Linked DNA regions of Homo sapiens. The protein of the gene in region 2 purifies or fractionates together with the protein of the main gene of each other region. This does not show direct contact. Each region holds a gene or a part of one and is shown on either strand. Other genes may lie near its edges.

The links. The genes of interacting proteins can lie anywhere in the genome.
Region 1: the proteins of RAB14 (region 2) and NRBF2 purify together in Homo sapiens (affinity purification with mass spectrometry; one large-scale study listed by BioGRID and IntAct). This does not show direct contact.
Region 3: the proteins of RAB14 (region 2) and KSR1 purify together in Homo sapiens (co-immunoprecipitation; one large-scale study listed by IntAct). This does not show direct contact.
Region 4: the proteins of RAB14 (region 2) and VPS13C purify together in Homo sapiens (affinity purification with mass spectrometry; one large-scale study listed by BioGRID and IntAct). This does not show direct contact.

The regions. Positions count from the first base shown.
Region 1 is NC_000010.11:63,136,328-63,139,827, reverse strand, and holds part of NRBF2 (nuclear receptor-binding factor 2), read right to left. Parts: intron 1-3,500. UniProt on the Homo sapiens protein: May modulate transcriptional activation by target nuclear receptors. Can act as transcriptional activator (in vitro). Involved in starvation-induced autophagy probably by its association with PI3K complex I (PI3KC3-C1).
Region 2 is NC_000009.12:121,188,370-121,191,869, forward strand, and holds part of RAB14 (ras-related protein Rab-14), read right to left. Parts: intron 2,363-3,500; coding exon 2,185-2,362; intron 1-2,184.
Region 3 is NC_000017.11:27,623,692-27,626,935, reverse strand, and holds the end of KSR1 (kinase suppressor of Ras 1), read right to left. Parts: 3' UTR 501-3,244; downstream 1-500.
Region 4 is NC_000015.10:62,050,448-62,053,947, reverse strand, and holds part of VPS13C (intermembrane lipid transfer protein VPS13C), read left to right. Parts: intron 1-3,500. UniProt on the Homo sapiens protein: Mediates the transfer of lipids between membranes at organelle contact sites. Necessary for proper mitochondrial function and maintenance of mitochondrial transmembrane potential.

The sequences.
Region 1 (3,500 bases), on a different chromosome or scaffold from region 2:
GGATACCTAAAGAATCCCTTCTCCAGATTTTCAAACTTAGGAGCAGACAATATGAAGAAAGTCTAATTAATGTGACATTCAGAGGCTAGCCAGGTGGAAATATAGGTCTGCAGAAAGGAGGAGTGAAGCAGACAAGCCTGAAAAGGCAAAAAAAGAGAGGGAGAGTCTGATTAAGTCGGACTGACAGGCTCTATACGGTCATAAACCAAGCTACATTATACCCCTGCCCTTCCTGCACCTTTCTTTGGAGTCCAGTAAATTATCTCTTTTGGCTTAAGCTAATTTCAAGTGGGTTTTCATCAACTACAACCAACAAAAATCCTAACTACAACAACTAGGTTACTAAGTGACTGCCATCACTGACAAGTACCTTTTACTTCCACATGCTAACTGCTTCAAAAATACATGTTCAATACTACCCTCTTTCCCAAAAGAAAACAGTATTACTTTCTATTATTTTTTTCTGTGTCCTTGGGGAAAGCTGTTAAGTAAAGATGAAAAGAAAAGGAACACCAGGCCAGGCGTGGTGGCTCACGCCTGTAATCCAGGCACTTTGGTTTGGGAGGCCAAGGTGGGCAGATCACGAGGGCAAGAGTTCGAGACCAGCCAGACCAACGTGGAGAAACCCCATCTACGCTAAAAATACAAAAATTAGCCAGGCATGATGGCACGCGCCTGTGGTCCCAGCTACAAGGAAGGCTGAGGCAGGAGAATCGCTTGAACCCCGGAGGCGGAGGTTGTGGTGAGCTGAGATTACGCCATTGCACTCCAGCCTGGGCAACAGAGTGATACTCTGTCTCAAAACGAAAAAGAAAAAAAGAAAAGGAACACCATATGAACACAGCACTGAAAAGGCAGCAGAGGAAAATCTAACATACACCTGACCTTATGGTAGGGTCTTCAGTTGAAAGAGAAACCTCACTCACTCCCCCTTTCCCAATCAATGTGCGTCTCCTACAAACAAGTAGCAAACAGTTATCTCAAATCAATAAGCACTGAATTGACTAAGTAATATAACGCAATTATACTGAAGATAAGCGCTCAAGTGTTGGAGAATTCCAGGAAAGACTTTTTTTTTTTTTTTGAGACAGAGTCTCGCTCTGTCGCCCAGGCTGGAGTGCAGTGGTGCGATCTTGGCTCACTGCAAGCTCTGCCTCCCGGGTTCAGGCCATTCTCCTGCCTCAGCCTCCCGAGTACCTGGGACTACAGGCGCCCGCCACTGCACCTGGCTAATTTTTTGTATTTTTAGTAGAGACGGGGTTTCACCGTGTTAGCTAGAATGGTCTCGATCTCCTGACCTCGTGATCTGCCCGCCTTGGCCTCCCAATTTTTTTTTTTTTTTTTGCGACAAGGTCTCGCTCAGTCGCTCAGGCTGCAGTGCAGTGGCGTGAGCTTGGCTTACCACTATCTTCACCTCCCAGGTTCAAGCGATTCTCCTGTCTCAGCTTCCCAAGTAGCTGGGATTATAGGCATGTGCCACCACACCTGGCTAATTTTTGTTTTGTTTTGTTTTTTGATACGGAGTTTCACTCTGTCACCCAGGCTGGAGTGCAAGGGCGTGACCTTGGCTCACTGCAACCTCCACCTCCTGGATTCAAGCGATTCTCCTGCCTCAGCCTCCCAAGTAGCTGGGATTACAGGCACCCACCACCACACCTGGCTAATTTTTGTTTTTAGTACAGACAGGGTTTCATCTTGTTGGCCAGGCTGGTCTCGGTGACCTACCCACCTCAGTCTCCCAAAGTGCTGGGATTACAGGCATGAGCCACTGTGCCCAGCCCAATCTTGCCTTCATATCCTACTATCACCACTTACCCTGCATTTCAAAGTCTTCATCTTTAAAATAGGGGGAATATCTCATATTTAGCTATTAAGAGGAAAAGATAAAAAATATACATAACGTGCCCGATGCCAATCCTACCACTTAGCAATAATTGCTGGATATCTCTTAGTACTCTCTACCTCCTTTTTCCAGAGTGCTTTCATTATGCCTAGCTCAGCTTGTGACAAAGAAATTTTCCTTGGAATTTTTCAGGGCAACAAAGAAGGGGTTCAAATTGCCTCTTTTTACCTTGAAGATTTTAAAGCCAATATAATTAAAATGGGATAGGTATAAGGACTCCAGGTATGCATAAGGCCATTCCTTGGACCATGATATCTGACTACTTTTCTTACAGAAGCTGGAAAGTAAGAGGCTTCATTAACTACCTCATGTGATGTGAGAACTGACCACTCTGGAGGGAAGCTGTTACTCAACAAACATTCTCAGCACTCTTAAGGGCTAAACACATAGAAAACGATTGTGGCCAGGCAGTCACATGGACCCTGCCCTTTGCAGCAGAGGTAAGCAAAACATGAGCAACAGCCACATATAAATTAAGATCTGACATCACTTTCCAAATCAGCAGCAAACAAACCAAAGAACTAGAAATTATCTCACAAGAGTTTTGACATTTGTTACCAGTAGTCACACTGACAAAATGTGTACGGAAAGAAATATCTAAATATACACTAATTTTATAAGTTATAATTTTTCCATATTTAAAACTGACAGGCTGGGCACAGTGGCACATGCCTGTAATCCCAACACTTTGGGAGGCTGAGACAGGAAGATTGCTTGAGGCCAGGAGTTCAAGACCAGCTTGGGCAACACAGCAAGACCCCATCTCCACAAAAAGTTTTTGAAAAAATTAGCTGGGCATGGTGGTGCAAACCTGTAGTCCCAGCTATTGTGGAGGGCTCAGGCAGGAGGATCCCTTGAGTGTGGGCAACAGAGTAAGACCCTGTCTCTTAAAGAAAAATTGACCAAAAAACCCTAATGAAACAAAGTTATTCAGAGTGCAAAGACTAGCTATTTTTTTCTTCAGTGGAAGTACAATTTTTCTTTTGACAAACTTCAATAACCAGATAATTAGAATCCATTACCTCTGTGGTACATATTAAAATGAATATTTCAAACTAGTCTCTTCCAGATCTTAAAAATTCACTGTGAGGAATTTCTAAGGCCCTTACTGCCAAACCTAACATAAAAGAATCAATACTGGAGCAGAGGTAATAAATGCTAACACAGAATCTACAGTTCAATATAGATGAGAACCATACTGAAATGAACATGATGAGTACAATATGGCAGCATTGCTAGAAAGAGGTCTTGATATCAAAATAACTCGTGATTCATAATGTATTTAAGTTACTGACCTAAGTAATTACCTAATTCTCTCAGCTTAGGCTTATTTATCTGTAAAACTGGAAAACACACCTTACTAAGTTCCGAGGATGCTCTGAGGACACATGATTACAAATCCATGTACTGTGATAAGTCCTTATACAATGAATTTGGACTACACTACGACGTCATTTGACAAAGCTTATTGCATTAGTAACTCTCTGAGTATAGAAAAAGAAAAAGCTTGTATAATACTAGTGGAATTTTCAAAGACATTCAAATTATAGCATTGAGAACTCTCATCTTGAGTCAACTAGATACTAAGTTAGGTGTT
Region 2 (3,500 bases):
TGAAGTACACAGAAAAGCCTAGTACCAAAATCATATAAACCATATTACTTACATGTACTATAACTTCTGCCAATGATTCTGGTAATTGTTATTAATTTAATATTCACTATAATTATAATTTTAAATCTATAAATAAATATTATTCAAATATTAATTGGTGGTACTAGTACTAAAAAAAAAGTGCTAAAATACTAGATATGTCAAAATGTTATGGCAAAACAACTGTCACGACAAGCTACGCTGTCAATTTAGAAAAGCACCCTGTAACAATGAGAGTTAATGACAAAAATAAAAAGGGACTTTTACGTTTGTAAAATGTCAAAGAATAACAGAAAAAAATTGCTGTCATGACTGCAACACCAAAGTCACTATAAAGTATCACTTTAGCGCCTGACTAAAGCCTCGGGTACTCTTTTCCAGTAACAGTTTTTATTACAATATAATGAACATATCATAAAGCTTATTCTTTTAAAGTACGTAATTTAGTTGTTTTAAGGATAGTTACAAACCTGTGCACTGATCACCACTATCTAATTCTAGAACATTTTCATCACCCCAGAGAGAAACTCTGAACTCACTTAGAAGTCACTCACTCCCATCCTCTGGCAATCCACTTTCTTTCTCTATAAATTTACCAGAATATAAATTCTCGATATTTCATAAATGAAATCATACAGTATGTGTCTCTTAGTGTCTGGTTTCTTCCACTTAGCATAATGTTTTCAAGTTTCATCTATGTTGTGGCCTGTATCAGTATTTCCTTCTTCCTTATAGCTGAGTAACATTTCATTGTATGGATATATCACAGTGTTTATCCATTCATCAGTTGATGCATGTTCTGGTTGTTCCCAGCTGAAGTACTTTTTTTGATGACTTGAATAGACACAGATTTTACCAAAAGTATTAACTATGCTTAAAAGATATGCTTAAAAGCAAAAACAATATTCTTAGCACACATCACCATACTTAAATTTTATTGAGTTTTTAATTATGTGAAGTCTTCAGAAATGCATTCCTTATAAAATCAGACAGTTCTGCGTAGGCGGCCAGGTTTATTAACAGTCTTCCCATAATACTCTTGATCATATCACAGATTGCCTGGCTATAATGAAGGGCATTAAGGCTTGTTTCCCTTTGAGGCCACCCAATTCTAGAATTTACTGAAAACTTTAGGCACTATAATTATAATTAGTCAATATCTTTATTCTAAGGCAGCATTTCCCAAAGTGTGTTCCTCAATAAAATAAGCTTAGGAAACACCAAATTAAATAAAGTCATACAGCAAAGAATTTCTTACTGCAGAACTTCCCAGAGTCTTAATATGCTAACGCACATTATGACACATCAAGAGGAAACCTTTTAAGGCATTTTCCGAAAGGAAATATGCTTTAAACTCTAATTATCACTTGGTCCCACTCGCCCATCTTTACCCCCAAGAAACAGAGTCACATTGCTTTTGACTGGCACTTTACATCAACATGAAAGGTGATCCAGTTCATTTTCTAGCTTACAGTAGACAAACAGTGCAGGGTCTAATCAAGTGGCACAGTTTTCCATGTTCTCCAAAGTCAAACCTTTATGTACAGTAGTTTTATTACTTTACATCAAGTGCTTTGGAATTCCAGAAACAGTCATGTTGAAATAAATTTAAACCTACTGCATGTAGTATTTGAAGTCATTTCTATCCATTTTAAGAGAAAAAAAAATTAGTAAATAAATACTCAAACACCTTCAGATGCAAGCATAAAGTTTTTTATAATCTACCATGCTGGACTAGCAAAACTCTTTGCTTGGCCTTCTTTTGAGAGGTGTAAACTTTAACACTAGAGACTAAATAGAGTAAGTCCCAAGAGTGAGTTGCTTGCTTTCTACTTAAAAGAACATTTTATATAAAATATTATTTCTCCTCAAATCATTCAACTGAAGCTGCTTTTCAGAACTGTATTCTTCTATTAGCTTCACCCAATAACTAACTCCCTAAATTTTTCTTCAGTCATAAAAACTTTTGGAAAATATCAATGTGTTATATCAAGTTTTACATGGCAACTTAAGAAACCATAAAAAACAAGTAAGTTCATTCACAGTCATACAATTACAAACTAAAAAAAATGCCTATCAATTTTTTTTTAAATGCCCAAAGTAGATTTATTTTCCCCATATGAAGGTTGAAAAATTATCTCTTACCTAGTGATATCATAGACCATAAGAGCTCCCGCAGCTCCTCTGTAGTAGCTCCGTGTAACAGCCCTAAATCGCTCCTGTCCTGCCGTATCCCAAATCTGCAGTTTTATTTTTTGGCCACTAACTTCGATTATTCTTGTACCAAATTCAACACCAATTGTGTGAGGACAATCAGCCATAACTGTTAAGGAGGAAAAAAAGTAATAGCCCAATTTTCAGAAAACTTCAAATTAAGCCTAGAGGGGGAAAATCCACTAAATAAGCAAATGGCTTACTAATACTTACAGGCTATAAATAGACTAAAGCTACCGCTAAAAAAAAAATTAACAAACACCCAGAAGTAAGAAGTCAGGGAAATGTGACTGTACTAGAATCGGGGTCAGCAAACTTCTAGAAAGGACCAAGCAGAAAATATTTTAAGTTTTGCAGGTCAAAAGGTCTTTGTCACAAACTACTCAACTCTGCCACTGAGGCATAAAAGCAGCCAGAGACAATATGTAAAACAGGCATGGTTGTATTCCAATAAATTTTATTCACAAAAACAGGCAGTGACTGGATTTGCCCCACTGGCCACCGTTTGCTGACCCCTCGACTAAAATAATCTGCTAAGTAAAAATAAGGATTTTAATTAATTCTTCACAATATCAACATTATACCATTTAGCCTTCTTACAATCATTATCTATAACAGATCAATCAATGGTCTTGGTACCCTAGGAGTTGTTAGTCAAACAGATTCTTATCCCAGAAAATATCAGTGTCTCAAAGAAAATCAGCATGTTTTATATATATATGCATATATTTTAGAGACAGGGTCTTGCTCTGTCACCCATGTTGGAGTGCAGTAGCACAAGCATAGCTCACTGTAACCTCGAACTTCTGGGTTCAAGCAAGCCTCCCACGTAAGTCTCCCAAAGCACTACTGGGATTACAGGCATGAGCCACCACACCTGGCTAACATATACTACTTATTATACAATGACAAGTTATATATGTCTAAGCCAATTAACAAATTTATTAGTCCTTTCCTTATAATGAGGCCACTTAAAACCTAAACCCACCATTCTCCAGTACAAGGACACAGACTTCTGGGCACTTCATAAAATGTTACATCAAACCTCTGTGGTAAGCAGCACAAAAATGTCAAAGAAATAATTTCAACTATACAGAAACACTTTCAACTATATTTAGCATATCAGTTACAACACATTGGTCCCTTCTATCACCCAAGAAAGAGTAGAAAGAATTCCATTTTAAGTATTTCAAATCTGTTATTTAACAAATGATACATGCAGCAAATTTCTCCTAATAAGACAATCA
Region 3 (3,244 bases), on a different chromosome or scaffold from region 2:
GGGTGAATACCTTAACCTCTCCGTTTCTCATTTTCCTCAGCTGAAACATCACAATTCTTACCTCATGGCCTTGTGAGGATTAAAGTGAGATGGTGTTTAGAAAGTACCTCTTCTCCACCTATCTGTATATATAACTGGCAATGAGGGGCTCCTAGATATTGGATTCAGATGAACACCACCTCATCCCTCCAAGGCTTCCATAAGGCTAAGGCATCTCCAGCTCAGGAGATGCTGGGCCTGCTCATGGCTTTGTTGCTGCTGGGGCCTGGATGATCTTCCTCTGCGCATTGTGGGCCATTGACGCTGTGCCTTCTCCATTCCTCCATCTGTTTAGAAACACCTGCCACTGAGGTCCTGGCATAACTTCTTCCTTTGGAAGGAGCTCCTTAATCTATAGACCAGGGGTTCAGTCACCCCAGACCTATCCATTCCCATGCCACCCATCCAAATGGTCCCCAGGACTCAGCTGGAACTGACCAAAGCAAAGACAAGCCCCAGAACACCTTGGTATAACTTTATTCACAAACTCCAGACACCCAGGCCTGGCTTAGCACAGAGGGCATGTTCTTGCCAGTGGCAAAAAAACCCGATACAGCATGTTTGTTAATACTAACCATTTTAATTTAAATTAATAGCATGTCTGGAAGACAAATGTAGTTGATAGAAAATATAAAAACTTTACTGTACAAATTTTACATCACATTCAAAAAAAGCAAGTGTGTGGCTTGTGGCCACAGAAGATGCTAGGTTTGCACGCTGATGAGATCCTGGCTAACACTGCTGCATAGCACAAACTCCAACTGGCTTCACATTTACGTCTCCACCCTCCCCCCACACCAAATCAACACAGAATAACACAGGTTTCCAGGGCTTGCCATTCCTCTCTGTGACCTCAAGAGGAAATGCCGTAGGATGACAGAGGGTGTTTTGATTTGGTGACATGGAGAGATCAACTTTGCTACACACTGCTCACAACCCCAAACTAGCTAGGATTCAAGACTTCGAGTTAGACAGAAACCCAGGGGGCTGCGGCTCTGGTGGTTAAAGGCAGCAGGGCTTCAGAGGTGAGGCTGGAAACTGGGGATGCCTGGAGGGCCAAAGCTTGGGCTCCACTCTCAGACCCCCGTGGGGACTTCCGCAGCCCCTAAGAGCTCTCCCCGAGCCCTCCCAGCCTTCTCCATCCCCTTCACAGTTGGCCGTGAGGGCTGAATTCACAGTATCTGTCATCCTTCGTGTGGAGAGAGCACACAGAAGGGCAGGTGTGCCTTCCTAACCTCAATTCACAGTCACTGAAATACAAGGGGAACAGAGGGGGCCATCATGGGGTGGGGTGGGGTTCTTTAAAGGCAGGCAGTGCAGAGGTGGCAGGCTGAGAGCCAGCTGCCCCCAGTCCTTCAGTTCCACCTTTGGGGCCCAGTGGCTTCTGGGTTCCTTGAAGACAACAGGGCCCCACCAGGTCATCAGTTCCTTAAGAGCAGGGACCATGACTGTTCCTATCTCTAGGTGCCCAGCACTTGCAGAAGACCAAGTGCACTGTAGTTGCTCAATGAGCGCTTCTTTAACTGTGATGCTCACGAGAAAAGCAAAACCCAGACTGACTTTCTGTGGGCCTGTGCATGCCCACTGCGGCCTGGTGTCAGGGGTCAGGGAGGAACTGAGCCTACTGTTCCTCCCAGTTGGACGGCTGAGCTGACATCCAACTGTGGGGCTCACCAGTACATCCATCAGGCCTGCTCTTGCCTGGACAAAGGCCACCATTGCAATAGAAAGGTGAAAGGCTGGAGACACACGTGATCCCTGGGAAGGGGCAGGTGTGTGGGAGGCCAAAGGGATGATGGGGCAAAATGAGCAGTCCCACCATAGCACAGAAACTCCACACGGAGCTGAATCCACGGGGTTTACAGCCTCCCCACACAGACTGGGAAGGGTGAAGATGCTGATGGCCAGGCACACTGGCACTGTAATACGGCTGTGCCCTCCCAGGAGGGGCTGACCAAGGGATGCCAGGCCTGGAGAGGAGGCAGCTCCACAGCTTGCTGGCAGAGCAGCTCATTTTCTGTGGCATTTTGACCAGACTCTGGTGCTAGGGAAGGGGCTGGAGACTGGGGCTCTGCTAGGCAGGTCTTAACTGGAAGGGGTGGGAGCCACACCCCTCCCTCCCCAAGTCTGAGCTCAGAGCATGGTCACAGGTTCTGGGCCTGAATCCAATCACGTCTCCACTCCCATCACCCTTTTTCCTTTCTGGTTTTGGAGTCTAATGCAACCTAATCTCCACTTAAGGGCTCCCTTGCCATCTGGAACTTTTTTCTGCAGTTAAGAGTTTCTAACGAAGACAAGCGTGGTGCTCTCACTTCAAAGACTTTTCCAAATCCAGCCCCTCCTGCTTCAAATGGACACAAGTAGAAGGCCTAATGGTGCTAAGGAAGGCTCTGCAGATGGGGGCCAGCTAGGTAGGTCTAAATGAAAGGGGTGATAGCCCACACACTGCCCAGCTGAACTCAGAGCATGGACAGAGGAGTCGGAAATAGGCTAAGGGGTTTCAGCAGGACTGAAATGGAAGAGGTGGGCAGTTCTAGAACCTTCTGGCATGACTGACAAAGGGTTTTTACAGTGCCAGGGTCACCCTGTGGCTGGGAAGTGGGCTCAGGTACTTTTGCCATCTACTCCTCCTTGTTCCCACCCATCCAGCCCTCATGGTCAGATGTCAGTCAGGGACTGGGATGTATCTAAAAGCCAAGGCCCTGAGTCCCATCACCTTGGTGCCTGCCTGGGGGCTTCATCAAAGACTCACATCTGTACAAGCCATGGATGTTTCCTCACCTTGCAGCAGAAACCCTGGCTGGGAACCACCGGGTGAGTCCAGACCTTTTTTGGATTCTGTTTCTACTTTTCCAGCAGGAGCAGCCTGGATTACAGGGGTGAGAAGGTGAACCCAAGCTCTCCAGGAATTCCAGACTCCATAAACTAGCTCAGTTCCTAGCCAGGGTTTCCTCTGCAAGACGAGGAAGGGGCAGTATCCCTTTGAAAGGACAAGGGGAGAGCCCTAGATAGATTTCCCTGATGGAGTCTTGGGCCAAAAAGCAGAGGCCAGATCAGACCTTCTGGGCTCCCCGCCCTACCCCAAGAACAGCTGCAATTACCATGTTTGTCTTCCTTCTGGCCCAGCATGGGTCCCTCACCGCCTACAAGGTCCTCAGAGGGGATGGCCATTTCCGCCATCCTGGCCGTCAGTGCCAGTGCATCT
Region 4 (3,500 bases), on a different chromosome or scaffold from region 2:
GTGTTAGATACAAGGGTGACTCTGGTGACCAGGAATAGAAGCCAAGTGCAATGCCCTCAGAATCTGTGGCCCTGCAAACCAGACTGAACCCGTGCTGTTTATCCCACTCCTGACAGTTTATCCCACTCTTGACACTTCCCCTTGAGCTGCCAGATATTGTTGGAGCAGTGCAGCATAAGAAAGGAGAATGAACACTGGACTGGGAATGAGCAAACCTCTTTAATCTTATTCCATCTCTGATTCTGTCTAGTTGTGTGGCTTTTGGCATGTCTCTGACAAGTGACCATTGGTTGCTTATCTGTAAGTGGAAAGGTTAGACAAGGTCATCTCTTCTGTCTTTAAACTTCTGTGATTTGAGCAAGGCAAGAACAACGTGAGATCCTTCATTGGATGAGTGGTACTGCCACTTCCTCCGCATTCATAGAGAGAAAAGGTAGTTAAATAATGTATCTTTATCTTTCCTTTTTGCTCTTCACCCGATATTGGTGAGTAAAGAGCCACAGTCAATGACAGTGACAAGATAAATGAAGTTCCAGGCTCATGCTGATATTTGTGGGTCCAAGTGTAATATACTGTAATATATTGTCTTAACAGGTACCTGTAGGGCAGCTTGAGAATGAAAGAAAAAGCAGCTCTTTTTGCTTTTTTTGGCTTTGACACATAAAAGATGTCAGTATCTAGGTATTTCTAAACCTGTAGAGGGATTTTCTTTAGTCTTTTCCTCCCAGCCAGCACTTGGTGTAGTGGAGGCCACATTTCTCATTAGCTTGTCCTATGGCATATAAAAGTAAACAATAATGAAAAGGTCATTAGTGTAATACATATTTAGGCTCAGTTACTACCAGTTAAAGCGGTGCTTAAAAATTTAAATTTAAGCACCTGTTCACATATTTAAGTAGCATTACTAATTAAAAATTAACTCCTTTTCTAGAACTAAAACTGAGAATTGGTATTTTGGTAACCATTCTGCTAGGAAGCTCTACCACATTACTCAATATTATGGGATCCCTGAAGTGAACTGAAAGGGAGAAAGTTCAGTGGTGATGTTGCAGCTTTCTACCTTCCTTTGTCAAAACTTCCTGTTTCAGTAGGGAAATGGGAAGAGTGAGAGAGTTGTTTCCTTTCTCTTTCCTGTCTTCCTCTCTGAAGACAAAGTCACTGTGAACTCATTAAAAGGAGTCTAGATTGGTTAATTTGGGTTGACTAGCTAGATTCATTTGAAATGAATAGCTATAATATTTTCTTTGGTATTCTTTTTTTTTTTTTTTTTTTTTTGAGACGGAGTCTTGCTTTGTCGCCCAGGCTGGAGTGCAGTGGCACAATCTCGGCTCACTGCAAGCTCTGCCTCCTGGGTTCACGCCATTCTCCTGCCTCAGCCTCCACAGTAGCTAGGACTACAGGCACCCGCCACCACGCCTGGCTAATTTTTTTGTATTTTTTAGTAGAGACGGGGTTTCACCGTATCAGGATGGTCTTGATCTCCTGACCTTGTGATCCACCTGCCTCAGCCTTCCAAAGTGCTGGGATTACAGGCGTGAGTCACCGCACCAGGCCTGGTATTCTTTACTAAAACATAAATCATTAAAATAATTTGATTCATGCTTTGCTTTAAAAAACTGTTCAGTCATCTACTTTAGCTCACCTCCCTGGAAAATGAATTGTGTCAGAACATTCAGATATGCTTTCAACTAAATAATGTTTATGTTATAGATACATAAACAAAATCTTAAAAAATAAATACAAAGCATTCTTTATTTCACTATTCTTTATATGCAAAGCTAGTTTCATGGATTATGGCATGGCATTTTTGTTTGTTGGATGGTTTTTGTGTTTAATCACAGTTTTGGATTAACCTCTATGTTTTATATTAAGAAAGTTGACCTAGGAGTTGGGAGACATAGATTCTATTCTTAGTACTGCCACAAAAAAATTGTATAACCTTGGATAAACTACCAGATCTCTTTAGACTTTAATTTCTTCATGTATAAAGTGAGAGGGGCTTAGATTTGAAAATCTTTATGGTCCCAAATAGTTCTAAATCATAACTTGTGAATTTCTGTCTTTTGAGGAAAAAAATAGATTTTTAAAAAGTACTAAAATGACCATTTTGTAATACCATCTCCTGCATCTGTTTTTCCCTGTGGCACTACGTTTTCTTCTGGTTATGCTCTGAACATAACCCCCTTGACTCTATCCTACCGTTCTGCCTGTGCCCTTGTTATACTAATTTTAGTTATCCTTTTTGTTTTGGATTTTTTTACGTCTCTTTGCAAATACAGAGACCAAAAGTGGAACCGACAACCACGCTGGCCTGTGAATGCTGAGTCTGATTCTTTTATGGCATTTTTGTTGTCCAGGGAGGTCGAATTACCTTCTGAATTAAAATCCTATACGCTTTATGCTCTGCTATTCGGGAGAACAGTGTTATTCTGAAGATAGCATTGAGTTTTATAAGATTTGAGCCTTGAGACTGCCACTTACTATTAGGTTGCCATAGGATTCTTGGGCTAGTCATTTAACCTCTCTAAGCCTCAGCTTCTATTGCTTAATGTATACAACCTGTTTCTTGCCCAGGAGGCTGTGAGGATTGAGTAATGTTATACATCTGAAAGTGTTTTCTAAAATATAAAGATTTATGACCTTATTGTAGTTGGTTCCACCCCAGTACAATATGCATTCTGAAGTCAGTATTTATCGAGTACCTACTCTGAGGAGAATCAGTAAGAAGTTTATAATCAGACTGGGGATTTATATAAAGTTAAGTGTTACGCACCATAAGAAAGCTATAGCCTAAATTTCTGCAAAAGTTTAGAGAGATTATTTCTGGTTGGAGGTACTTAACAATAGGACTATATTTCTTACATTTATTTTGTAGGCCATTATGTATTTAAAAAGCCATTCTTGGACTTAGGCAGGCTTTTCCTTATTGTGCTAGTACCATTTGATTTTTATTCATAAATACACTAGCTTGGTTGTTTTCTATAACTAGCAACTATTTCTACTTTTTTTTTTTTGCGATGACTCCAACTCTTCATGTCATTTGCTAATTTACTTCCATTTTCATCTTCTGGTTCACTGTTGAAGAATACTAAATTTTGATCCAGTTTTGATCCAGGATTTACTTTTTTTTTTTTTTTTTTTTGAGACTGGGTCTTGCTCTGGCTGTCACTGAGGCTGGAGTGCAGTGGCATGATCCTGGCTCACTGCAACCTCTGCCCTTCTGGTTCGAGTGATTCTTCTGCCTCAGAATCCTGAGTATCTGAGATGACAGGCACCTGCCACCATGCCTGGCTAATTTTTTTGTATTTTTTAGGTAGAGACAGGGTTTCGCCATGTTGGCAAGGCTGGTCTCCAACTGCTGGGCTCAAGTGATCCAATCGCCTTGGTCTCCCAAAGTGTTGGGATTACAGGCATGAGCCACTCACTGCACCTGGCCCTTTTAGTATATTTCTTAAAATATCTTTCAAGATTGGCTTTGAAACTATGGTGACTTTCTAGCA